3 linked regions of the Homo sapiens genome follow. The protein of the gene in region 1 purifies or fractionates together with the protein of each later gene. This does not show direct contact. Each region holds a gene or a part of one and is shown in the gene's direction. Other genes may lie near its edges. The genes, in order: SPMIP4, GRK6 and GDA.

Region 1 (7,863 bases):
AGCAATTAGTAATTAACTAGTAATTAATGACAAAAAAAAAACCATTCTGACGTCAGCCTGGAATTTCCTTTGCCTCTTTCCTGCTGAGATCATGAATCAGGTCTTATTCTACTAGATGACATTAACAGCAGTAATCTTTATGTTCATATTTTAGTTTCCCAGAGGTGTTGAGAAAAATAAGCCAGTATTCTACCCAAAACCTCCTAAAACCTTCGCTCCTAACACTTCTTTAAATTCATGGGACCCTATTTGCTCTGCCAAAGAAGCCAACATACAAAGAAATCTTGAGAGGTCCCACTGGCTCACTTCGTACACTCATGATTTTACAGGTATGAGTTCACTTTCATACAAGTAAAAATTAGAACAAAATTGGAATATTTAACAAATGCTATGACAAGCTTTCAACTTCTCATGTTTTTGCCTTTTTCTCAAAGTATTTAAATCCTAAAGTATTTAAATAAGAATTAAGGTGGGTGGTAAATTTCTCTTCATAGGTAGCTGGGAGGTAGGGTTGGTTTTCATTTTATTGGTTCTAATTATATTACAAAAGGAATGGGTAAGTTTTCCTATAAAGGGTAATATAACTGTCGTTCTTCGTTTACCCTAACAAAATAATAAGGTGATGTTTCCATTAAGGTCTGGGGCCCATGGACCCCCTTGAACTGGATGATTACCATGAAAAGATGGTAGCAGAGTTAACACGAAAGATAGGATTTGACCCAGAGCCGGTAAGTAATTGCAGTCAACTCTCAGTTATTTTGGGGGAGAGTGCTGGGCTCCTTCTTGCTTTGCCACTTTTTGTGTCCTGGGTTTTAGCAACCAAGTTAGCAAATGGAAATTTTTACTTATTTTAGAAGTGAATTCTGAGCTGATTTGAACTGGTTTGAATACTTTGTCTGCTGTTTGGGAAAACAAGCAAGATTTCTTTTCTTGGGCCAGGCGCAGTGCCTCACACCTGTAATCCCAGCACTCTGGGAGGCCGAGGCGGACAGATCACGAGGTCAGGAGTTCGAGACCAGCCTGGCCAATATGGTGAAACTCTGTCTCTACTAAAAATACACAAATTAGCCAGGCGTGGTGGCACTCGCCTCTACTCCCAGCTGCTCAGGAGGCTGAGGCAGAAGAATCGCTCGAACCCAGGAGGCAGAGGTTGCAATGAGCTGAGATCGTGCCACTGCGCTCCAGCCTAGACGACAGAGCGAGACTACGTCTCAAAAAAAAGAGATTTCTTTTCTTCTTCAGAGTGGTTTTTTTTTTTTAACAGATTTTCTACTATGCTACTGTTGCTGAAATAACTTACAAAAGAAGCAGTTTACAAAAGAATTTAACTAGTGATTTAATGAGATTCCTAGTAAATTCCGTAGATCTTTGCTTTTTTTTTTTTTTTTTTTTTTCCTTGAGACAGAGTCTCACTCTGTTGCCAGGCTGGAGTACGGTGGCACGATCTCAGCTCACTGCAACCTCCGCCTCCTTGGTTCAAGCGATTCTCATGCCTCAGCCTCCAGAATAGCTGGGATTACAGGCACGCACCACCACACCCAGCTAATTTTTGTATTTGTAGTAGAGACGGGGTTTCACCATGTTGACCAGGATGGTCTCGATCTCCTGACCTCGTGATTCGCCCGCCTCGGCCTCCCAAAGTGCTGGGATTACAGGCGTGAGCTACTGCGCCTGGCCCTTTGCATATTTATATATCTTGTACATTACCATTGCTTTTGAAGAAATAAAGGCTTCCTCCTGATATTCATAATAATTGAGAGCTGGCTGAATTACAATGAAAAGCCAATACGTTCTCTGCAGATATCAGTAGAGACTTTTAAATTGATTATGCGAAATGGCCTGGAAGAAATAATCAAGCCCTTTAATGAGCAAAAGTATAATCTGTTGGTTTAATTATGTAAATGAGATGAAATGACCTAATAGTTTGCATATGTGTTGTTTTATTTGAGGCCTAAATTTTATTCTCGACGACTACAAATTTTGAAAACAAAATTAACATTTTAAAGGTATATAAATTGTGAAAAACACAAGGAAAAACATCTGTAAGATTATTTCAGTTTGAACACTTTAAAAACTGAGCTGGGTCAGGCTCGGTGGCTCATGCCTGTAATCCTAGCACTTTGGGAGGCTGAGGCGGGTGGATCGCCTGAGGTCAGGAGTTCGAGACCAGCCTGGCCAACATGGTGAGACCCGTCTCTACTAAAAATACAAAAATTAGCCGGGCGTGGTGGTGGGCGCCTGTAATCCCAGCTACTCTGGAGGCTGAGGCAGGAGAATCGCTTCAGCCAGGGGGATGGGGCGGAGGTTGCAGCAAGCCAAGATCATGCTGGGCGGGGGGAGAAAAGAAAACAAAAAAACTGAGCTGAGGGCCGGGCGTGGTGGCTCTTGCCTATAATCCCAGCACTTTGGGAGACTGAGGCGGGTGGACCACCTGAGGTCAGGAGTTGGAGACCAGCCTGGCCAACATGGTGAAACCCTGTCTCTACTAAAAATACAAAAATTAACCGGGCATGGTGGCACATGCCTGTAGTCCTAGCTACTCAGGAGGCTAAGGTGGGAGAATCGCTTGAATCTGGGAAGCAGAGGTTGCTGTGAGCAAAGGTTGTGCCACTGCACTCCAGCCTGGGCAACAGAGTGAGACTCCATCTCAAAATAAATTAATAAATAAAATAAAAACTGAGCTGAACATACTGATTTTACATTTGCTTCAGCATTTCCTAAGGTGATATAAAATCATAACACCAGGAGCAGGTTTATAGGCTGTGTTTTATCATTCACTGAAGGGTTTTTAATAATTTTTTTGTTGAATTTGCAATGAGCATTCTCTAAGTATAGAAAATATTATATGAACATATGTTGTCAGGTGTGTTCAACAACTGTCCAGATTTCCAGAGATTCGACCCTGTATGGTATGTACAAAATACATATTCCATTATATACAGGATGTTTGCCAAATATGTTATATGCAAAATCATTGTGCAAGCAAATCAACTCTTAAATATTTATGAATAACGAGATAAAATATACCTAAGATAATTGGAAGTTTAAAAGAAAGTTTTAGTGACTCTTGCTGGTTTCTGATTAAACCATAAAGAACAGACTGGGAAAACATGTTTTAATGGTAATAAAAATGTGTATGAAATATTTTATTGTAGTAGTGTAAAATAAAAGCACTAAAAACTGCTTCTTGCATACAGAAATATATATGGTCAAAGTACAATATGATAAGTCCTGTCCTTTTTTATGACAAATTTAACAAAGCACGTCAAAGAGCTGAAGTTTTTTCATCACAGTATTTACTCAAACTTGATTAGCTAAAGGCTGTAACAAATTTGTTACCTCAATATGGAAATTTCTCTGACTATGAACAGATTAGCTTTCAAAAGGATGTTCCTAAGTCCATTTTTTTAAGTCCAAGCTACAGTGATTATTTTCTCACTACTCTCATTTGTATTATCTCTGCTGTCAATTCCATCATCATTATACATACATTCTTTGGTAGTTTTTTTACTTTAACATATTATTATAAAATGTTTGAAACATACAGAAAAGTAAAAAAAAAAATGTATAATTAACACCCATATACTCACCACCTAGATTCTACCACTAACATTTTGCTATGCTTGTTTTATCACATAATCTATCCATCTTTCCATCCCTCTAACCATCCATCATCCAGAAATAATAAAAATATATTATTTGTATGCATTTTAGAGTAAATTGCAGACATTAGTATACTTCACTCCTAAACATGCAGCATGTATATTATCAACCAGAGTTCAATATTTGTTTGCGGTTTTTTTTTCTTTTAAGATGAAATAAAGTTCAATGCAATTGCACAAATCTTAAGTGTACATTCATCGAGTTTTAACAAACACACCTTTGTAACCCAAACCCCTATCAAGATACAGAATACTATCATTCCAGAAAGTTTCCTCCTCATACCCCCTCCCAGTCAGCTGCATCCTCTTCCCACCACCCAGCGTGTATCTATTAATAGCACTTTAAATACACTCACTACTTTCGCAGTTACCAGACATAATTGAGTTCATATTTATAAAACAACTTAAAAAGAAGCACAGACATGACACCTCAGACCAGTGTTTCTCAAAGCATAGCAAATCTCCAGCCTCACCATCACCTGAAATGCTCGTTGAAAATTCAGCTTCCATATATTTACATGCAAATCTGTGTATGGACATATGTTTTTGTTTTGGGAGAGTAGTTATATGATTTTAGGAAACTTCAAAACCATTTTTCAAAGTGGCTGTAACTCTTTACATTCCAACCAGAAATGTATGAGGGTTTTTATTACTCAACATAAATGCCAACAGTTATTTATTTCTCTCTTTTTGATTATACGGTGACTGTGGAGTATTAACTCATTGTGGTTATTTTTGGTTTTGTAAATAAATTTTATTAGAACATGGCAACAGTTGCTGGGCACAGTGGCTCAGGCCTGTAATCCTGTCATTTTTGGGAGGCAAAGGCAGGAGGATTGCTTGAGCCTAGTAGTTAGAGACCAGCCTGGGCAACATAACAAGACTCTATCTTCACAAAAAGAAAATAAAAGAACTCAGCAATATTCATTTGTTTATGGATTGTTTATGGTTGATTTTATTCAACAATGGCAGAGTTGCATTGTTACAATGATGATCACATGGTCCACAATGCTTACACTAAATTATGAGCTTATTACTACTTGGCCTTTTACAGAAAAAAGTTTTCTGATCCCTGGAATAGATCAACAAAATTGACAAACTTCTAGTTAGATTGATTAAGAACAAAAGAATACACACATAAATCACAGTTATAATGAATTTTTTTAAAAGATTATCATTACATATTCTCCAGGCATTAAAAAGATCATAACTTAAAATTGACAAGTGTCCTTAAAAAGTGGTCCTCCCAAAATTGGCATGAGAAGATAAAGAAAATCTGAATAGTCCTATACATAATAATAAATTGAATTTATCAAAAACCCTCCTAAAATGGAAAGTCTAGACCCAAGTGGTTTTACTGGTAAATCTTTTCTAATCTTCAAGGAGAAATAACACCAATCTTACACAAGATTTTTAGAATGTAAGGAAGGTTAAATTACCCCATATTATGGGTAATCTCTTTTGTTGAAGTTGTAGCATAATCCCAAGTACCTCAGAATGTGACCTTATTTGGAAATAGGGTCATTTCCAAGGTAATCAAGTTAAAATGAGGTCATGAGGGTGAATTTAATCCAATCTAACTGGTGTTCTTATAAAAAGAAAATTTAGAGGTAGACATGCTGCAGAGAGAATGTCTTGTGAACATGAAAGCAGACAGTGGGGTCATGCCTCTACAAGCCAAGGGACACTAAAGATTTCCATTAAACCACCCAGAATCTTGGGAAGAGGCAGGAATCAGATTTTTCTTCACAACCCTCAGAAGAAACCAACCCTGCCAATACACTGAGGCTGAACTTCCAGAACTATGAGACAATAAATTTCTATTGTTGAAGCCACCCAGTTTGTGGTACCTCATTATGGCAGCGCTAGCAAATTAATACACTCCGCAACTTGTTTCATGAGGTTCGCATTACTCTAATACTGTCAAAACCTGCCAAAACCATAAGAGAATGAAAACCAAAGAGAAAGGAAAGAAAAAAGAAAAAATAAAAAAAAAAAAAAAAAAGAAAATTCAGCTTCCTGGGGCCCACTACAGGCCTTCTGACCCACAGTCTTGGAGGGTCTTAGGAGTCAGGAATCTCCTGCCAGCTCTGCAGATGATTCTGACTCAGCCAAGGTTTAAGGGCACTTGCTAAGGCCTAATAAAGGAGACTTTGGCTGAGATTAAATAACTGCACACGCGGCTAATGCCATCTGTTAGTGATGGACAGAAGTTTTATTCCAGTGATTGCTTTATATCTTTGAAGTTTAAAAGCAGAGTTCCCACACAGAAAGAGTTCTGTATAGCCAAATAAAAAACATGCCCCTTTCATACTCTCTAAAACCAGTAAAGGAGGAAAATGTATTTGGACCCAAATTTCAATGTCTTTAAATTAGTATCAAAGAGCATTGCAATGTACACTCCTATGCCCATCTCGTGTACTCAGACAATGAAAATGGGTATGACTTTTGACCTACCATTTGTGGCAATATCCCTGATCAATTTTTTTCTCCTTTTTATCCCACAACTACAGCAAGAAAAATTCCACCCTGTCTTCAAACCTCCCAGACCGTTGGAAGGACGAATTGCCCGATTAATTCAGAACCGACGTTCTCTGGAGGCTATAGTCCAGCAAAGACCACGTTCCTGTCCAGATTGTACTCCTAGAGTTTTGTGTAATTTTCATACCTTTGTACCCAGTTCTAAAGAAATGGTGGCACTTAGTGATAACATACCAGCCGGTGTGACCCATAAAAACCAGGATATTGAAGAGAAGATCATAGAAGAACAGAGCTTGCTGTCTACCTATGAACTCCCATCTTGTTACCCAACAAAAGACCTAACTAGCATTTATGACATAAAGCCATTTCCAAAAATCACAGATACTAAAAAGACAGAAGATTTATACTGGAGACAGCAGTCACTAAAAACCCAACCCACACCTTACTGTAAACCAGACCACTGGATTCACTATGAAAATCTTAAATCTCCCCTACGTGATCAGTATAATATGTGTCCAGACCCTGTTAGCCTTAGTAAACCTAGTGTTTTACAAAATAAACAAGACACGGAAGCTTTCACTTTAGAACATTTTTTAAGTAAGCCAGAAGAAGAGTTGTTCTTGAATATGGAAAACAATGAAGAAACAAGACCTGTTCTTGGTTGGATTCCTAGAGCTGGAGTGACCAAACCTCAGACCAACCTGCTGGAGCTTAAGAACTCTTTTTCAAAAACTGGTGCACAAAAGCGTTTCCATAAATCAATTCTAGAAGACCATAAAGACCTCAGGGATAATGAGCATTCGGGGATGAAGCACCAATTCTATGGCCATAATTCCTATTATTTCTATAATTGAGATACTCATTCTTCCCTTCAAAACCCAGCCTCTTGCAAGAAGCTAAAAAATATAACAGAATTTCCTTCGTATTGCTGGATTCTGTTTTCTAGATTAAACCACAAGGACCTTGTTAGTGAGGTTTACATTTTCAGGAATTTAAGTTAGTATCTGGTTGGAGGAACCCAGAAAAGGTGATGTTATGACTTCTTGAAAAGTTTAACAATTTGGCAATAAAATATTAGAACTAGAAAAATTTATAGTCTTTAATCTCTCATCTTCAGATTATACAAGGAAATTTTCCAAAATCACAAAAAGCAATGTGTACAACAAAGTTTACATCATTGTTTCACCAAAAAAAATTGAAAAGCTGGAAAGAACTCAAATGATCAATAATTAATGAATGACTATACAAATTATAGTATCTTAATAAAAATGAGAACACTGTCCCTTTATGTAAATTTTTGTACATAGTAGCATTAGGTAGAAAAGACAAAACCCAAACACCTAGTTAATTGAGGGATGGACACCTCTAAAAACTATATTGTCTTAAAAGTATGTGGACTCTGTTCCTTTATGTAAACATGTAAAGAAAATAAGTCAGCGAAAAAAATGAAACCCAAAACTCTCTGCATGTACACATTACAAATTGAATTGTTTGCTTACCCTTAACCTTCTGATTGAGAAACATAACTGTTTCTTTTATGCAGATAAAATTATTTTACTGAAGATCTAGCAATGGCCTTAATTAGCAACTGGTGAGTTCTAATTATAGCAAGAAAGGATGGCTTGGTATCAGTTATTACAGAGCCCCAAATCTTCATTTCTGGAGTGTGTTCTCTAAGAGTTTGGCTAACTCCCATATGCAAGTCAATTCATTTAATGTG
Region 2 (7,579 bases), on another chromosome or scaffold:
AGCCCTAACTCCCATGCCGCCCGCCCAGCTCCGGAGGTGGTGAAGAATGAACGGTACACGTTCAGCCCTGACTGGTGGGCGCTCGGCTGCCTCCTGTACGAGATGATCGCAGGCCAGTCGCCCTTCCAGCAGAGGAAGAAGAAGATCAAGCGGGAGGAGGTGGAGCGGCTGGTGAAGGAGGTCCCCGAGGAGTATTCCGAGCGCTTTTCCCCGCAGGCCCGCTCACTTTGCTCACAGGTACGGCAGCTCACAGAAGCCTGGCCAGCCAGGGCTGGGGTGGATGCACCTTTCCCTCCCTCCCACCCACTCACCTGCCTGGCCTGCCTGGCCGACTCACCCCTGCCACAGCTCCTCTGCAAGGACCCTGCCGAACGCCTGGGGTGTCGTGGGGGCAGTGCCCGCGAGGTGAAGGAGCACCCCCTCTTTAAGAAGCTGAACTTCAAGCGGCTGGGAGCTGGCATGCTGGAGCCGCCGTTCAAGCCTGACGTGAGTGCAGCCCACTCCTGCTGAGGGCGGGGCCCAGCCAGGGCTGGGGCTCAGGGGCTCTTGTAGTATCAGCCAGGATGCTTCCAGTGCAAGTGGCAGAAAAAACAATCTAGTGGCTTAGCCACAGAAATAAAGATAATTCACAAAAAGGAAAAGCCCCAGGATGGGTCTGGCTTGTGGCATGCCTGGATGGGGCTTGGAGCCTCTGACAATGTCCTAGGAACTCTCTCTCCTTCCCCTCACTGTACCGTTGAGTGTGTAGTCTTCATATTGGGGTAGCTCTCCCCATGGTGCGGCAGCAGTGGGCCCCAGCAGCTCAGCCACCACAGTAGACAGAGAGCTTCTCTTCTCTTTTCTCTTCTCCTCTCCTCTCCTTCCTTCCTTCGTTCTTTTTTCCCTTCTTTTTTCCTTTCTTTCCTTTCTTCCTTTTCTTTTCTTTTTGGAGACAGGGTCTTGCTCTGTCCCCGAGGCTGGAGTGCAGTGGTGAGATCTTGGCTCCCTGCAACCTCTGCCTCCCAGGTTCAAGCGATTCTCCTGCCTCAGCCTCCTGAGTAGCTGGGATTACAGGCGCCCACCACCATGCCCGGCTAATTTTTGTATTTTTAGTAGAGATGAGGTTTCACCATGTTGGCCAGGCTGGTCTTGAAATCCTGACCTCAGGTGATCCTCTTGCCTCGGCCTCCCAAAGTGCTGGGATTACAGGAGTGAGCCATCGCGCCTGCCCTTGCCCAATAATTTCAAAAGAAATCCTCATGGGGGAAAAGAAGTCCCAAAGCTGATGCCCATTGCCTCTCATTGCTCAGAGGCCCCTCACTGGCCACACCCAGATCATACACCCACCCGAACCTGCACCAATGGGGGAGCTCAGTTCCCCAGAGGAAAACTACAATGCAATTGCCAGCAGTGGGAGGGGCTGTTGGGCTGGCCATCCTTCTGTGGGTGGTCACTTTTCCTTATGGAGTCTCACCTGTTAACTGAGCATCTCAGTGGGCCAGGCACCCAGCAGGCAAGAGTATCCTCTAGTTGTCAGAGTCCGGGTGGCAGAAAACCAACCTAAACTCACTTAAGCTCACCGTGGAGTGTATTGGTTCATTTGGCCAGAAAGTCCCAAAGTAGGGCCAGCTCCAGGGTTTCCTGCTGTGTGCCACGATTCTCCAGCTCTTGCCTGGCCTTCAACCTGTTGACTCTTTCCCTCCCCCTGAATTAGGCTTCTCTGTGTGACAGTCATAGGGAAGGTTCTGATTGGCTAAGATGAGGTCATGTGCTTTCCCCTTCCCATGTCTATGAGGACTGGTCCTGTAATTAACGGTTCACCAGGAACACTGGAGAGGCCCGAAGGATGGGCAGGGCAGGCCAGGTTGATAGCTGTCAATGACACACACGTTTATTGATTCAGCAAATAGCTGAGTGCCCATTTATGCCAGACCCTGGAGATAATGAGGCCCACTGGAGCCAGTCCTGCCCTTACATTCTAGTGGGAGACACACCCAAACAAACCCGTAAGCCAGAAGGAATTCCAGGTAATGTTAAGTGTGACAAAGAAAACTAAAGCAAGCGGCTGGGTGCGGTGGCTCACGCTGTAATCCCAGCACTTTGGGAGGCTGAGGCAGGCGGATCACCTGAGGTTGGGAGTTCGAAGACCAGCCTGACCAACATGGAGAAACCCCATCTCTACTAAAAATACAAAATTAGCTGGGCATGGTGGCGCATGCCTGTAATCCCAGCTACTCGGCAGACTGAGGCAGGAGAATCGCTTGAACCCAAGAGGAGGAGGTTGCGGTGAGTTGAGATCGCGCATTGCACTCCAGCCTGGGCAACAAGAGTGAAACTTCATCTCAAAAAAAAAAGAAAACTAAAGCAAGCTACGAAGATGGCAGAGAATGATGGTGGGGGGAGCGCTTTTAGACACCGTGGTCTCTGGGGAGGTGATGCTGGTGCAGAAATGTAAAATATGTGAAGCGGAGAGCCATGCCAAGGTTTGGGGTGTGAGCATTCCAGGCAGAAGAAACAGCCGGGTATTGCAGTCCTGAGGCAGGGGCCAGCCCTGTGAGGTGGAGCAGCCGCGAGGACACCTGTGTGGCTGAGTGAGCCCGTGCAGGCAAAGAGGAGTGCCGGCAGGTTCTCAGCAAGATGGGACCGCTGGGGGACCCTGGGCAGGAATGTGAGGTGTGGGGAGTGGGCCATAGTGGGTGTGAGTGGAAGTGGGGAGGCCAGTGAGGGGGCTACTGCCCTGAGTGACTGCCTCACATGGGCCTCACTGGAACCGCTGGCCAGGCTGGTCTCGAACTCCTGACCTCAAGTAATCTGCTCGCCTTGGCCTCCATACCTCTTGGTCTATACCTAGAAGTAGAATTACCAGGTCATATGGTAACTATGTTTAACCTTTTGGGGAACTGCCAGACTGTTTTCCAAAGCAAAGGTGGGCCCTGTCAGAGGCACTTACTTGAACTAAGAGAGCCTGACTTTCATCAGCTCGCCCCTGAGGCTGGCACTGCCACTCAGTCTGTTCTGTTTCCTGTGTACATCATCTCATTTAACCTTGAAATAACTACACTGCCTCTGGATCTTCCATTCAAAGTCGGAGATAAAATCAGTGCCCTGGAGTTTAACTTTGTGGAAGCAGTAGATGAAAAAGCAAGCTTGATGATATTTTTTTAACAGCTCTATTGAGTTTAATTTATATGATTTATATACCATACAATTCACCCATTTAAAGTGTACAATTCGGCTGGGCGTGGTGGCTCATGCCTGTAATCCCAGCACTTTGGGAGGCCAAGGTGAGTGGATCACCTGAGGTCAGGAGTTCAAGACCAGCCTGGCCAACAAGGTGAAACCCCCGTCTCTACTAAAAATACAAAAATTAGCTGGACGTGGTGGCGCATGCCGGTAATCTCACCTACTTGGGAGGCTGAGGCAGGAGAATCGCTTGAACCTAGGAGGCGGAGGTTGCAGTGAGCTGAGATCACACCATTGCACTCCAGGCTGGGCAACAAGAGCAAAACTCCCATCTCAAAAAAAAAAAAAAAAAGTGCAATTCATTGGCTTTTTAATTATGCAGTCAGCACCACGATAAATTCTTGAGTGTGTTCATTACCTGCCCCACTCTGCAAAAAAAAAAAAAACCCATACCCTTAGCAGCCATTCCCCATGCTTCCCTCCCGCTGCTCCTAGCAATCACCAGTCTACTCTGTGTCTCTCTCTGTTTGCCTACTCTGGACATGTCATAGCTATGGCATCACATAGTATGTGATCCTCTGTGCCTGGCTTCTTTCACTTAGCATAGTATCTTCAAGGTTCATCCATGTTGTAGCATAGATCAGTGCTTCATACCTTTTTAAGGCTGAATAATATTCCATTGCATGGATAGACCACATTTTCCTTACCTGTTCGTCAGTTGGTAGACATTAAGATTGTTCCCACTTTTTGGCTGTTATTGCTGCTGTGAACATTCCTGTACAAGTTTTTGTGTGTGCAGATGCCGCCATTTCTCTTGGTCTATACCTAGGAGTAGAATTACTAGGTCATATGGTAATGATGTTTAAGCTTTTGGGGAACTGCCAGACTGTTTTCCAAAGCAGCTGTACCATTTTACATGACAATGATTTTAATTGACATCTTAATTGAAGGATTTAGAAAACAATGTTAAGATAAAAAAAGAAGGTGGCCGCCTGGAGCTGAGGTGGGCTCCCAGTGTGGGTCTGGGGAGGTGGAGCAGTGGGAGACCGTGCCAGTCCTCTGATTGGCTGGGAGAGAAGACGGCAAGTCCCAGGTCATCGCAGGGCGGGGAGCCAGGGAGTCACCAGCTCCAGGCTCTGCGTGGTGGTGCCCAGCGGAGGGGCCGGCTGAGATTCAGCCTGTACTCCCCGCCCCAACTGCATACCCAGGAAGCTGTGGGCAGGCGAAGGAGGTGCCTGGCATTGGCCTTTACACAGCCTCACAGTCATTGAGCAGTGAGGAATAACGTACGCAGTTCACAGAGGGGAAAACCAGGCTTCGGAGAGAAGGGCCTGCCCCACTTAGGAAGTGCGTGGGGCACCTGGTTTCTCCAAATCAGAGAGCTGCTGGTGTCAGGCAGCACTAGGCCAAGACCCGAGGCAGAATCAGGGCTGAGCTGCCTTCGCGTGTGCGTGTGTGTGTTTCCTATCTGACCGTTGCCTCTGTCCCACCAGCCCCAGGCCATTTACTGCAAGGATGTTCTGGACATTGAACAGTTCTCTACGGTCAAGGGCGTGGAGCTGGAGCCTACCGACCAGGACTTCTACCAGAAGTTTGCCACAGGCAGTGTGCCCATCCCCTGGCAGAACGAGGTGGGGGCCTGCCCTGCTGGTGGGGTGGGCTCCAGGAGGCTGCCCTGGGGACAGCTGTCACAGCCGCCTGCTCCTCAGCAGATGGTGGAGACCGAGTGCTTCCAAGAGCTGAATGTCTTTGGGCTGGATGGCTCAGTTCCCCCAGACCTGGACTGGAAGGGCCAGCCACCTGCACCTCCTAAAAAGGGACTGCTGCAGAGACTCTTCAGTCGCCAAGTAAGCCCCAGCAGCGGCCTACCTGGGCCCCTAACCTGGCTCCAGGGGACGGTGGGTGGGAGGCAGAGCCGGTGCCCGCATGCGCTGGGAGTGGGCGTCCTCCAGTCCTGTTGTGGTGCCCAGGGTCTCTGGCCTCATTCCCGCCTGTCCCCCACCCCTGGCTGGGCTCATGGCCTCTTTTCTCTTTCCAGAGGTGAGCAGTGTGGGCTCCCCGTGGGTTGGCCTTGCTGCCTGGCCTCGGGGAGCCACGGGCAGCCCTTCCATGGCAAAGGCAAGATGTGGGAGAAAGAAGTCTGGTGCCCGCCCCACTCCCCCTGCCCACTGCTTTGATCCCCTGCACCCTGGCCCCTTCGAGCTGCCAGCTTTGCTTCGCTTGTCTCCCCGTGCCCTGTCTCTGCCAGCCCCAGGGGAGAGGGCTGGGCAGAGGCCTTGCCCTGGCAGACCGTGGGATCTACCCAGCCCCCTTACTTCAGTCTGTTGCCGGCAGCCTCTGCAATGACGCCCACCCACGTGTGGCCTGAGCTGCTGCTCCAGGCTCCTTGTGGAGAGGCCCCTCCCCAGAGTGCACCCCTCAGGCAGCTCCTGGCCTGCCCTGGCAGGGTCGGCCCCATGTGACGTCCCTCGTGGTTAATGGCACCTGCTCTGCCTCTCTCCCTCCCTCCGTGTCTTCCCCGTCCCTCCAGGATTGCTGTGGAAACTGCAGCGACAGCGAGGAAGAGCTCCCCACCCGCCTCTAGCCCCCAGCCCGAGGCCCCCACCAGCAGTTGGCGGTAGCAGCTACTCCGAGCGCCGTTTACAGTTTTGCACAGTGATCTTCCCCATTGTCCACTCAAGTCGTGGCCTGGGGAACACAGACGGAGCTGTCCCCAGTGTCCTCCGTCCCTCAGCCCCTGGCCTGGCTGAGTTTGGCAGGGCCTGGGCCATCCCTGGGACAAAGGTGCGTCCCTTCAGCTCTTCTCCGTGGAGCTCGGGGCTTTCTGTATTTATGTATTTGTACGAATGTATATAGCGACCAGAGCATTCTTAATTCCCGCCGCAGACCTGGCGCCCCCGCCTTGGCTCCTGGGGGCAGCCAGCCCTGGCTGGGAGAGCGGGAGCTGGCAGAGGAGCCACTGCCAAACTCAAGGCTCCTCTGGCCCAGCTTGGATGGCTGAGGGTGGTCACACCCCTGAGCCTTCAGCACTGTGCTGGCCACCCCGGCCTCTGAGTAAGACTCGTGCCTCCCCCTGCTGCCCTGGGCTCAGGCTGCTACCCTCTGGGGCCCAAAGCTGTCCCTTCTCAGTGCTTGTCAGCGCTGGGTCTGGGGCCTCTGTATGCCCTAGGCCTGTGCCAAAGTGGCCAGAGATTGGGCTGCCTGTGATACCCATCAGCCCACTGCCCCGGCCGGCCCAGATAGGTCTGCCTCTGCCTTCCAGCTCCCACAGCCTGGTCCCTGATACTGGGCTCTGTCCTGCAGACACCTCTTTCAGAAACGCCCAAGCCCAGCCCCTAGGAGGGGGTGGGGCATCCCTGGTCAACCCTCAAACATTCCGGACTCCCCTCATAACAATAGACACATGTGCCCAGCAATAATCCGCCCCTTCCTGTGTGCGCCTGTGGGGTGCGTGCGCGCGCGTGTGTACCTGTGTGGGTGAAGGGGATAGGGCGAGGCTGTGCCTGTGCCCCAGGTCCCAGCCCTGGCCCTTCCCAGACTGTGATGGCCATCCTGGTCCCAGTGTTAGGGTAGCATGGGATTACAGGGCCCTGTTTTTTCCATATTTAAAGCCAATTTTTATTACTCGTTTTGTCCAACGTAAGCTGCCACATGTCTCTGTGTGAATAGTCCGAGCACAAACCTGGCTAGCCGCCCCTGCCTGCCTCTTTCTTGCTTCCGGTGCTCCAGGGGTCTTCCTGCTCCCCTGGCCCAGCTGGAAGCGGGAAGGGATTGGAGGTGGGCCTGGAGGGAAGCAGGGTGTGCCCTTCCGAGGCCCAGGAGCCCCCAGGGCTGACTCTGAACTAGCCTCTCCAGACAGCCAGGCTTTGGTAGCCTTTGGGCTCACCCAGTGGGTTTCCCAACTTCCTAAATGGGATGGGGCCTAAGGAAAGAAGCCTTGGGTACCCACTGGGATGTGGGTCTGTTTCTGACTGCTGGTAAGGCGGGCCCCGTTGGTGTCCTCCCCTCCAAGGCTAAGGTGGCCTGGCTGCCTAAATGTGGACGTAAGAGTAGGGTGGGAGCTGTGTAAGGAATGTCTGCCCCAGGCCTGCGTTACCTGGACGCCAGCCATGTACGGGCCCCGGGCTGAGGCACGTGCATCATATCCACCCCTCTGTTTTGCCCTTGACACATTATGGGCAAAGACCTAGACAGTGGGTGACGCTGGCAGATAGGCTGTGGCCAGTGTGGGAGAGTTCTCTGAAGACGGTGGTTGAGCCGGCCTCGAAGTGGACATTCACCTGGGAGGAAGGGGGACTGGGAGGCACTCAAGGGGAGCTTCCTGCCTGGGCTCTGGGGCTGAGAGCTTGTTGCCTACCAGTCTGTCCCAGATCTGGCAACCCCATCACTGCTCTATAGACTCCCAGTGTCCCCAGCT
Region 3 (8,644 bases), on another chromosome or scaffold:
GACTCTACCTCAAAATACTAATAATATTAACAATAGACTTCTTTAAAACAAGTAATATCAAATAGCATACTAGAGCATTGTTATCAATGTGTCACTTCAGCATCAATTGTTAAGTGCCTTGTATTATATTCGTATCACTTAAGATTTGACATGTAGTATATATAATAATACGACATTCACTAATTATGCTAGGGAAATGTTACAGTAATACTATGAAAGCTATTAATTTCTACTCCTAGAGGTGGCAGAGAGAAAATATATTAGTTCCATATAGGTAAGACAATATCTGTTTCATACAGTCATACCCACAGTGCTTAGCATGGTGCCTATCATAATATAGATGTCCAATAAATATTTGTTAAGTGAACAAACTGTTAAAGAATATTTATAGGGACTAGCACTATATTCTCATAAAAATGGACAAAATATGAATTGAGCCATCTCTCTATTGTCAGTAAATACAGAGGTGGGATACTCACTGGCATAACTACACTATACAGATAAAGTAGTTTTGGGGGGCCGAGGGTGCTGCCTCTATGGATAGGCAAACCTGGGTTCTCACCTAAGAACTGGAAAATGGAGATCATTATGATTTGCTATCCATTAAGGCCTCCCACTCAGAAGAACACACAGTTTTAAAAGGAACGCATTTATCCCATCTCAAATTTTTGGTGTATCTTTTTTTTTTTTTTCTCTAAAGCATAACAAGCTTGTCAGAGTTTCCATGGTGAGCACAGGGCACCATGGAAACTGATAGATTTAGCTACATGAAAAGAATAAATAAAATAGGCAGGCATTTATTTCACTGTACAATGACAACTTCTCTCCTAGATAAGAGAGGAAAAGTGGCCTCTCATTTAAACTGCTTCCCTGCACTCTCTGTACCTCATGAAAACCTGAGTTATTTTCGATAGCCCATTCTACTGACCTACGCTGATTGGATTCCTGTTTTTCTCAAGGCCCATTATTCCCTTTAGTTTTACTGCAGGCTAGATCTGAGTGTCACCAGCAACTGTTGGAAAACCATGTACAATGTGAAAGTTGTAGATGACAGCCCACAGTGCAGTGGCCAAGTGAGTCATGGCAAAACTGAATGAACAATTCCTGGGAGTTTACTGTGATGAGACAATGTATGAGAACAACTGGACTCAAGATCCAAGTCCATCCTATATTAACTGCACAGGCAAGCCAACCTCCCTGAACCCCAGTTTCCCCATCTGTGGAATGTTTAAAATACATCCTCTTCCTATTTTATAGGGTTGTTGAGAGGCTCAAAATTAGATAATAGAGGAGAAAGCCTTTTCAAACAGTCAGGTTCTATCTAGCAAAAAGGACTGACTGACTAAGCTACAGGTATAATTACATTCATGAGATGAGCAAAATGTCAAAGCTAATCATGCTATGGTCTAGGTTTTGGCCTCAGGCAATTGGAGGTTTAGAACACGATGATCCCACCCCAGTAGTTGGGGAATTTGGGGGCTACTTGGCTCCATCTGAAATAGAGAAAATTGAGATTGTAAGAAATGAAGCTTTAAAATTTTTCTCTATGTCTGAACATTCTCATAAAATGTTGGAAAACTAAATAAATGAAATAAAACTCATCCTTAAGTTCTAGTCCCAATGAATTGTTCACCATTAGCAGACACCCACTATAGCCTCTTAATTTTTATGACTAAAATATAGGCACTAGAGCCATCTCCTGCAATTCAATATTCATATAAATCTATTGAGCACCTCCTAGTGACCAGGGACTGTGTTAAGGGGATGGATACACAGAAAGAAAGAGGACATGGTCCTTCAGAAAAACACATCTTCTTTGGGGTATAGATGAGTAATGGAACAATTACAGCACACCCACAAACTCAGGGGAGGAACACTTAACACTCTAGAGCAGAAATGTAAAGATATCCTGGATAAAGGTGAGGGGGGGTTGGGGGTTGGGGGAGTGGGTGGGACAATGAGGCAGACATGGTGTAAGGTGGTAAAAGGGCACCACAGGCAGAGAGAAGAGTGTGAGCAAAGCGGATTCATAGCATATGGGAGAGTGGAGGTAGCCAAGCCTGAAGAAGCAGCCAGGGAATATTCCATGCCAAGGCGGGGCTCTTTTTTTCTGAAGGAAGTGATATGTGGGGGTGGAGCACTAATGATGCTTGGGCTGTATTTTGAGGGTGAATATGAAAGCTCTGTACTCCCTCTTTCCTCCAAACCTCTGTAGCCAGGAGAATATTTCCCTGGGGATACCAGAATGGGAGTCAAAATTGCAGGAGGACCAGCAATTTAAAGGAGTTGCCACCTCCGAGAGTGGAGTCTCACCCTGTTGCCCACGCTGGAGTGCAGTGGTTCAATCCTGGCTCACTGCAATCTCTGCCTCCCGGGTTCAAGCGATTCTCCTGCTTCAGCCTCCCTAGTAGCTGGGACTACAGGTGTGCGCCACCACACTTGGATAATTTTTTATATTTTTGGTAGAGACGGGGTTTCACCATGTTGACTAGGCTGGTCTCGAACTCCTCACCTCAAGTGATCCGCCCTCCTCAGCCTCCCAAAGTGCTGGGATTACAGTCATGAGCCACCATGCCTGGCTGGGAAGCCAAGACTTCTGGCATGTGGCTGAGCCATGCTGCCTGGCAGTATAGCACCCAGGGCTTCTGGATCCTGGGCCCAGGTACCTACAACTTGACTGGGAATGGAAGTGGAACTATGCATTGCTCAAAAGAGCTAAAATTTACCTGAGGAGCACTAATGCCATGTCACCTGGAGGTTCATGGCCAATCCTTCTGCTTAAGACGATTAATTTCTTTAAAAGCATCATAATGATTATTCATCCTATAAACCACATAGTAACAACATTAAAAAAATCAAAACAAAATTCTCTACCTAGCAATTCCATTATCTCAACAGAACAACACACATTGTTTGATGTACCTTTTCAATTCCAGCAAATATGCTTATAGCTTTTCATGGTTTTCATCGTAGCATAGAAGCTGTTTTTTGTTTGTTTGTTTTGTTTTGTTTTTTTGAGACCGAGTCTTGGTCTGTCACCAGGCTGGAATGCAGTGGCGTGATCTCAGCTCACTGCAACCTCCGCCTCCGGGGTTCAAGCAATTTTCCTGCCTCACCCTCCTGAGTAGCTGGGACTACAGGCACGCATCACCACACCCAGCTAATTTTTGTATTTTTAGTAGAGATGGGGTTTCACCATGTTGGCCAGGATAGTCTCAATCTCGACCTCGTGATCCACCCGCCTCGGCCTCCCAAAGTGTTGGGATTACAGGCGTGAGCCATCGTGCCCAGCCAGAAGCCATTTTTGAAAGCTTAACATTGTGGCTATATATTTCTCCTGTTGTTTTTAATAACTGTATAATGTTCTATCAAGTAGATATATTCTAGTTCATAAAACTAGTCTCTATTTTTTTTTTTTGACATTTAGGTTTTCATTAAAACCTAATCATCAAAAAAATTATTAACCGTATCTGTTTTAGGAAAGTAATACATCTGTTGGAAACATCTGATTGAATCCTATCTCAAAAGCCATTTTCTTCACCTTTCTGTCTGAGGTTTTTGTGTATACAAGGGAATGTTTTCAGTGTGCTGGCTGTCGGTACTGCCAGGAGGGAGTGCAGTTGGCAGAATCAGGAGAAAGTGACAAGGAGCAGGGACAAGTGTAATGACCTCAGCTGCAGAGATTCCTAATTCTGGATCCCTGGTAGGGTGATCAACCATCTGTGTGCATGGTTCTGACGGTTTTCCTGAACGGCCTTTCAGTGCTAAAACCAGGAAAGTGCCTGGTAAACCAGGATTTGTTGGTCACCTTAGACATTGGTTATGGGGGAGCTGAAGGAACTGAGAAGGGAACGAATCATTTCTATAAGCCAGCCCTGTGTCTTAAAAGCAGCAATTCAGAGAAAAACTGCTCACACACTGCAATGAAACCCTCACCCTTTATGTAGTTGTCAAAATAGTTATTTGTCTCAGGTTATGGCTCTGCTCACAGAAAAACCATCCATTCATTTATTCAATAAACATGTATGGAACACCGGCATTGTTCTAGGCATAAGACACATTCCCTGCTCCTGTGGTGCTTCTGTTATTGGTGTGTGTATGTGTGTGTGTGTGTGTGTGTGTGTGTGTGTGTGTGTGTGTGTATTGGTGAGAGGGAAACAGGAGTAAACTAAAAAACACAAAATAAAGAAGAATGGACACAATAAATGCAATGGCAGAAACAAGATGGATTAGTGGAGTAGAAACTGCTGGGAGTCCGGTGCCACTTGGTGGTCAGGAAAGGTGACTCCGAAGAGCCTGACATTTGAGACAAATCAGTGGTGAGAAGAGCTGCCAAGTAAAGCGCCACAAGAGGGATTAGGGGCAGAAGGAACAGCACGTTAGAGGGCCCTGAATGGAAGCCAGCTGGGTTTCATGGAGGAACTTAGTGAAGGACCCTGTGGTCATTGTGTAGGGTGGGAACGCTGACCCTAGTTATGACCCAGTCCAAGCTCCATTTTCATAAGTGGGGATGATAAGCACACTGAGGCCCACGTGTCTTGTCCACAGTCTCTTGATTCCCAATTCAGCACCCATGGTACCATTGCTGCCTATTTGACTTGAGAACTTAATTTTCTCCCTTTGTACAACTGGAAGTAAATAAAAGAGATTCATTCATTTTACACGAGAAAAATTGGTATTGGAATTGTTTGCGGACAAACACAAGAACCAAAAACATTAGCCTCAAGGTGAAGAGAGGAACCTTGGCGTCCACAATGACACCCAGTTTAGGGGTCCCCAGAGATGTTCGGTAAGACATGCTTCCAGAACCTTCCAGGTGAGGACCAATACTAATTCTGCAGTCTACATAAACTAAAAATGAAACTGGTCATAAGGTAGGCAGCCCCAGCTGACCTTTCACCTGTGCCTGAACTAATGCAAGTACAGGACCTGAGTGCTACAGGTTGAAGAAGTAAGTGATCCTAGGAGTTGAAGGGTCAGAGGAGCCAGGCTGACACAACTCATAGAAGGTGGAGGAAGCTGATCTTCTGAGCCTCAGCTGTGGTTGATCTTGATAACTCAAAGAGTTAACACAACCAAAACTAACGCAAGGGTGGAGAGAAAGACCACACCCCACGGGAGCGCGGAGCCAACTCGCGGGAGAAAAATCCTATTGGCATTGAGGAGGTAGGGAGCCAGCCCCTGGGCGCGGCCTGCAGGGTACCGGCAACCGCCCGGGTAAGCGGGGGCAGGACAAGGCCGGAGCCTGTGTCCGCCCGGCAGCCGCCCGCAGCTGCAGAGAGTCCCGCTGCGTCTCCGCCGCGTGCGCCCTCCTCGACCAGCAGACCCGCGCTGCGCTCCGCCGCTGACATGTGTGCCGCTCAGATGCCGCCCCTGGCGCACATCTTCCGAGGGACGTTCGTCCACTCCACCTGGACCTGCCCCATGGAGGTGCTGCGGGATCACCTCCTCGGCGTGAGCGACAGCGGCAAAGTAAGCAGGCGCGGGGTCGAGCGCACTCCGACGGGCGGGAGGATAGGTGCAAGGAACCTGGCGCGGTGCTTCGCGTAGCCCGGGGTTCGCTCGGTGCGCAGTGAGCGCCGCGGCTCCGGAGTTGAACTTGAGTCTTTGGCTCTTGGGCAACGCAGAGAGAACCCTGGCGCTAGGTTCGTGGGCTGGCTGGGGAGTTCCCAGAAGTCGGGAGCAGTGGCGTGCTAACGCCACAACTGGCTCGACAGCAGTCCGGGCTGCGGTAGAGCCGGGAGCAAGGATGTCACCCCCCGCTCCCCCGCCCCCCGTTCCAATCCTAAGATACCGGCAATAATCTTCAATCTTGCTTAAATCATCTTTGTTTCCAACACCTAGCACTGTGCCTGGCACAGGAGGCTCTCCATAAATGTGGTTGAATTTATTGTGAAAGAAATAAGAGGAGGGGGTCATTTGATTGATGTTGTTTAGCGTGTCCAGAACATAGAATAAATAGAACTGATTACATTCACCCTATCATTCAACAGAGATAATATACTAACGATGAAGGTTCCACAACTTGTAATACTAGAAGGGATGGTCCGAAAGAAATAATTCATCCATCTCTTTTCCTTCCTCTCTCTCTCTTATACACACACGCGTACACACACACACACACACGCACGCACACACACACACACACCATAGCCATTTGCATCAAAGCAAGCAGTTCCATTTTAAGGTTCAAAATGTCTTCTTTGAATGTATCTTTTACACTTCCTTTTCCAAAATCAGGATTTCTACAAATGACACAGGTAACTTGATGTCTACTATTTACTGTTCCATACACACATATAGTGACTATATCAGCCATGGCCTGGCAAGTTTGATAAGTGAAGCCATTCCATTTTTTAGAACAAAAAAATGATAAAATAAATATGGAGATGGGATTTTTTGAGCTGTTTTCCAACTACTGGTTTGGTTAGCAAAAGTACACATACTTGTGATTTGTCAAGTTGAAGATACTATTCTTGACTAAGATGCTACCGAGTCGGTGACAGTTTTGAATCGTGACTCTTACATTTGGGGGTAACTAAACACTGTTTTCTCATGGTGCTTTAAAAAATACTCTTTCTATGCACGTTCAGGGAGCCTGCTGTTGTGTTTCCAAGGTGATAAAACTCTCAGAGCTCTCCCAGGGAGATTCCGGTAAACCCTGAGACTGATGAACCCATGCTTGGGGACTTGGTCCTCAAGTTTCAGGGAACTCAGGTTTGGGGCAAGTCCCAGGAAGCAAAGGAACGGAGATTGCTAAACTGGTGTAAGATTAGAGGTGTTATTTTAATCACAAGAAGCTGTTCAACTCTTGGGTTTCTTTTTTAAAAATTAATTTCCCATATCCAGAATTGTAATTGGTAGGGTAACAGGCAACTGGTTTTACCAGTGGAGAGGAATAAGAAAAGGAAGTAATAAAAATACCTTTTCTGGTGCTTGTACAGAAGAAGAATAAAAGAGTTTCCCAAACACACAATTAGTAGTTGAGTCAGGGAGTCTATTCCTCACTAAAAATCATACTGAAGTTATAAATTTAGAAAACATGCCCTTCCCCCACAAGACAAAATGACTTAGGAATTGAATACAAAGGTGAGTTAGTCAGTGGCTGGAATGTATGGTACAGAGCTCCTGAACCAGTGGATTGCTAACTGTTGCTCTCCTCTCCTCCTAGGTGCAAGGCAGTTGATACCTGGCTGTGTTTAAAGAGAGAGCATGCCATACATATTTCAAAACTTGACATCCCCCATTTCAAAATGGAGAGTATCTTACTTTTAGAGTTGCTGGGATAAATATATTATTTATTTAAACATTTCAAGGTTCAAAAAAGAAAATAATACGCCTTTGGAATACAGAAATATGTTGAATTATTATGATCTGTAATTTTTTTTTTGGTTTTTTTTTGTTTGTTTTTTTTTGAGATGGAGTCTCGCTCTGTCACCCAGGCTGGAGTGTAGTGGCTTGATCTTGGCTCACTGCAAGCTCTGCCTCCCGGGTTCATGCCATTCTCCTGCCTCAGCCTCCCGAGTAGCTGGGACTACAGGCGCCACCACGCCCCACTGATTTTTTTGTATTTTAAGTAGAGTTGGGGTTTCAATGTGTTAACAGGATGGTCTTGATCTCCTGACCTCGTGATCCCCCTGCCTCGGCCTCCCAAAGTGCTGGGATTACAGGCGTGAGCCACCGCGCCGGCCAATGATCTGTAAATTTTTACTCCTAAATTTTTAGGAGCTCAAACCTTGCAATGAATCAGAAATATCTAGGGGTGCTTGATAATATGCTGATTTCTGGGCATCATCCTCAGAGACTCTGAATCTATAGACCTGGGGTAGGCCCCAGAAAGTGGCATTCCAACAAGCATCCCAGGAGATTCAGACGCAGGTAGCGGGTGGATTATAGCAGCGGGTGGATTACATTTTGAATAACTGTAACACATAGTTTCTGTGATGGGACAAGCTGTGTGAAGTATCAGGAGCTTATTTCTCCATTGCAAGTTTAGATCTGGGGTAGAATCTCAGCGAGAGGGCACAAAGCTTACTCTGTCCTTCTGGTCTCGCTTTTAAACTTTATTCCTTATTTTGTATAACTTCGTTTAGGCCCAGAGAATGCCAATGACTAACTGCTCTTAATACATTAAATTAAAGCTCATTCAAAAGCAGGTTAATTAAAAGAAATTATCTAGCCAACTTTTTGGTATAAAGCAAAATACAGAGTTATACTTTCTGCTCAAGTAGCATGTAGCTTTTAAGAATATAGACTCTAATGATTGCCATTCTAACTGGTGTGAGCTGATATCTCATTGTGGTTTTGATTTGCATTTCTCTGATGGCCAGTGATGATGAGCATTTTTTCATGTGTCTTTTGGCTACATAAATGTCTTCTTTTGAGAAGTGTCTGTTCATATCCTTTGCCCACTTTTTGATGGGGTTGTTTGTTTTTTTCTTGTAAATTTGTTTGAGTTCATTGTGGATTCTTGATATTAGCCCTTTGTCAGATGAGTAGGTTGTGAAAATTTTCTCCCATTTTGTAGGTTGCCTGTTCACTCTGATGGTAGTTTCTTTTGCTGTGCAGAAGCTCTTTAGTTTAATTAGATCCCATTTGTCAATTTTGGCTTTTGTTGCCATGGCTTTTGGTGTTTTAGACATGA

The links.
Region 2: the proteins of SPMIP4 (region 1) and GRK6 purify together in Homo sapiens (affinity purification with mass spectrometry; 2 studies listed by BioGRID and IntAct, with this or other methods). This does not show direct contact.
Region 3: the proteins of SPMIP4 (region 1) and GDA purify together in Homo sapiens (affinity purification with mass spectrometry; 2 studies listed by BioGRID and IntAct, with this or other methods). This does not show direct contact.

The regions. Positions count from the first base shown.
Region 1 is NC_000007.14:25,135,106-25,142,968, reverse strand, and holds part of SPMIP4 (sperm-associated microtubule inner protein 4), read left to right. Parts: intron 1-154; coding exon 155-329; intron 330-636; coding exon 637-728; intron 729-6,175; coding exon 6,176-6,997; 3' UTR 6,998-7,863. UniProt on the Homo sapiens protein: Microtubule inner protein (MIP) part of the dynein-decorated doublet microtubules (DMTs) in flagellum axoneme. May serve to reinforce and thus stabilize the microtubule structure in the sperm flagella.
Region 2 is NC_000005.10:177,436,045-177,443,623, forward strand, and holds the end of GRK6 (G protein-coupled receptor kinase 6), read left to right. Parts: intron 1-28; coding exon 29-237; intron 238-348; coding exon 349-486; intron 487-1,844; exon of another isoform or gene 1,845-2,826; intron 2,827-3,869; exon of another isoform or gene 3,870-3,987; intron 3,988-4,655; coding exon 4,656-4,793; intron 4,794-4,874; coding exon 4,875-5,009; intron 5,010-5,200; coding exon of another isoform or gene 5,201-5,206; exon of another isoform or gene 5,207-5,309; intron 5,310-5,690; coding exon of another isoform or gene 5,691-5,692; coding exon 5,693-5,746; coding exon of another isoform or gene 5,747-5,783; 3' UTR 5,784-6,847; downstream 6,848-7,579.
Region 3 is NC_000009.12:72,144,211-72,152,854, forward strand, and holds the start of GDA (guanine deaminase), read left to right. Parts: upstream 1-5,229; 5' UTR 5,230-5,349; coding exon 5,350-5,472; intron 5,473-8,644. UniProt on the Homo sapiens protein: Catalyzes the hydrolytic deamination of guanine, producing xanthine and ammonia.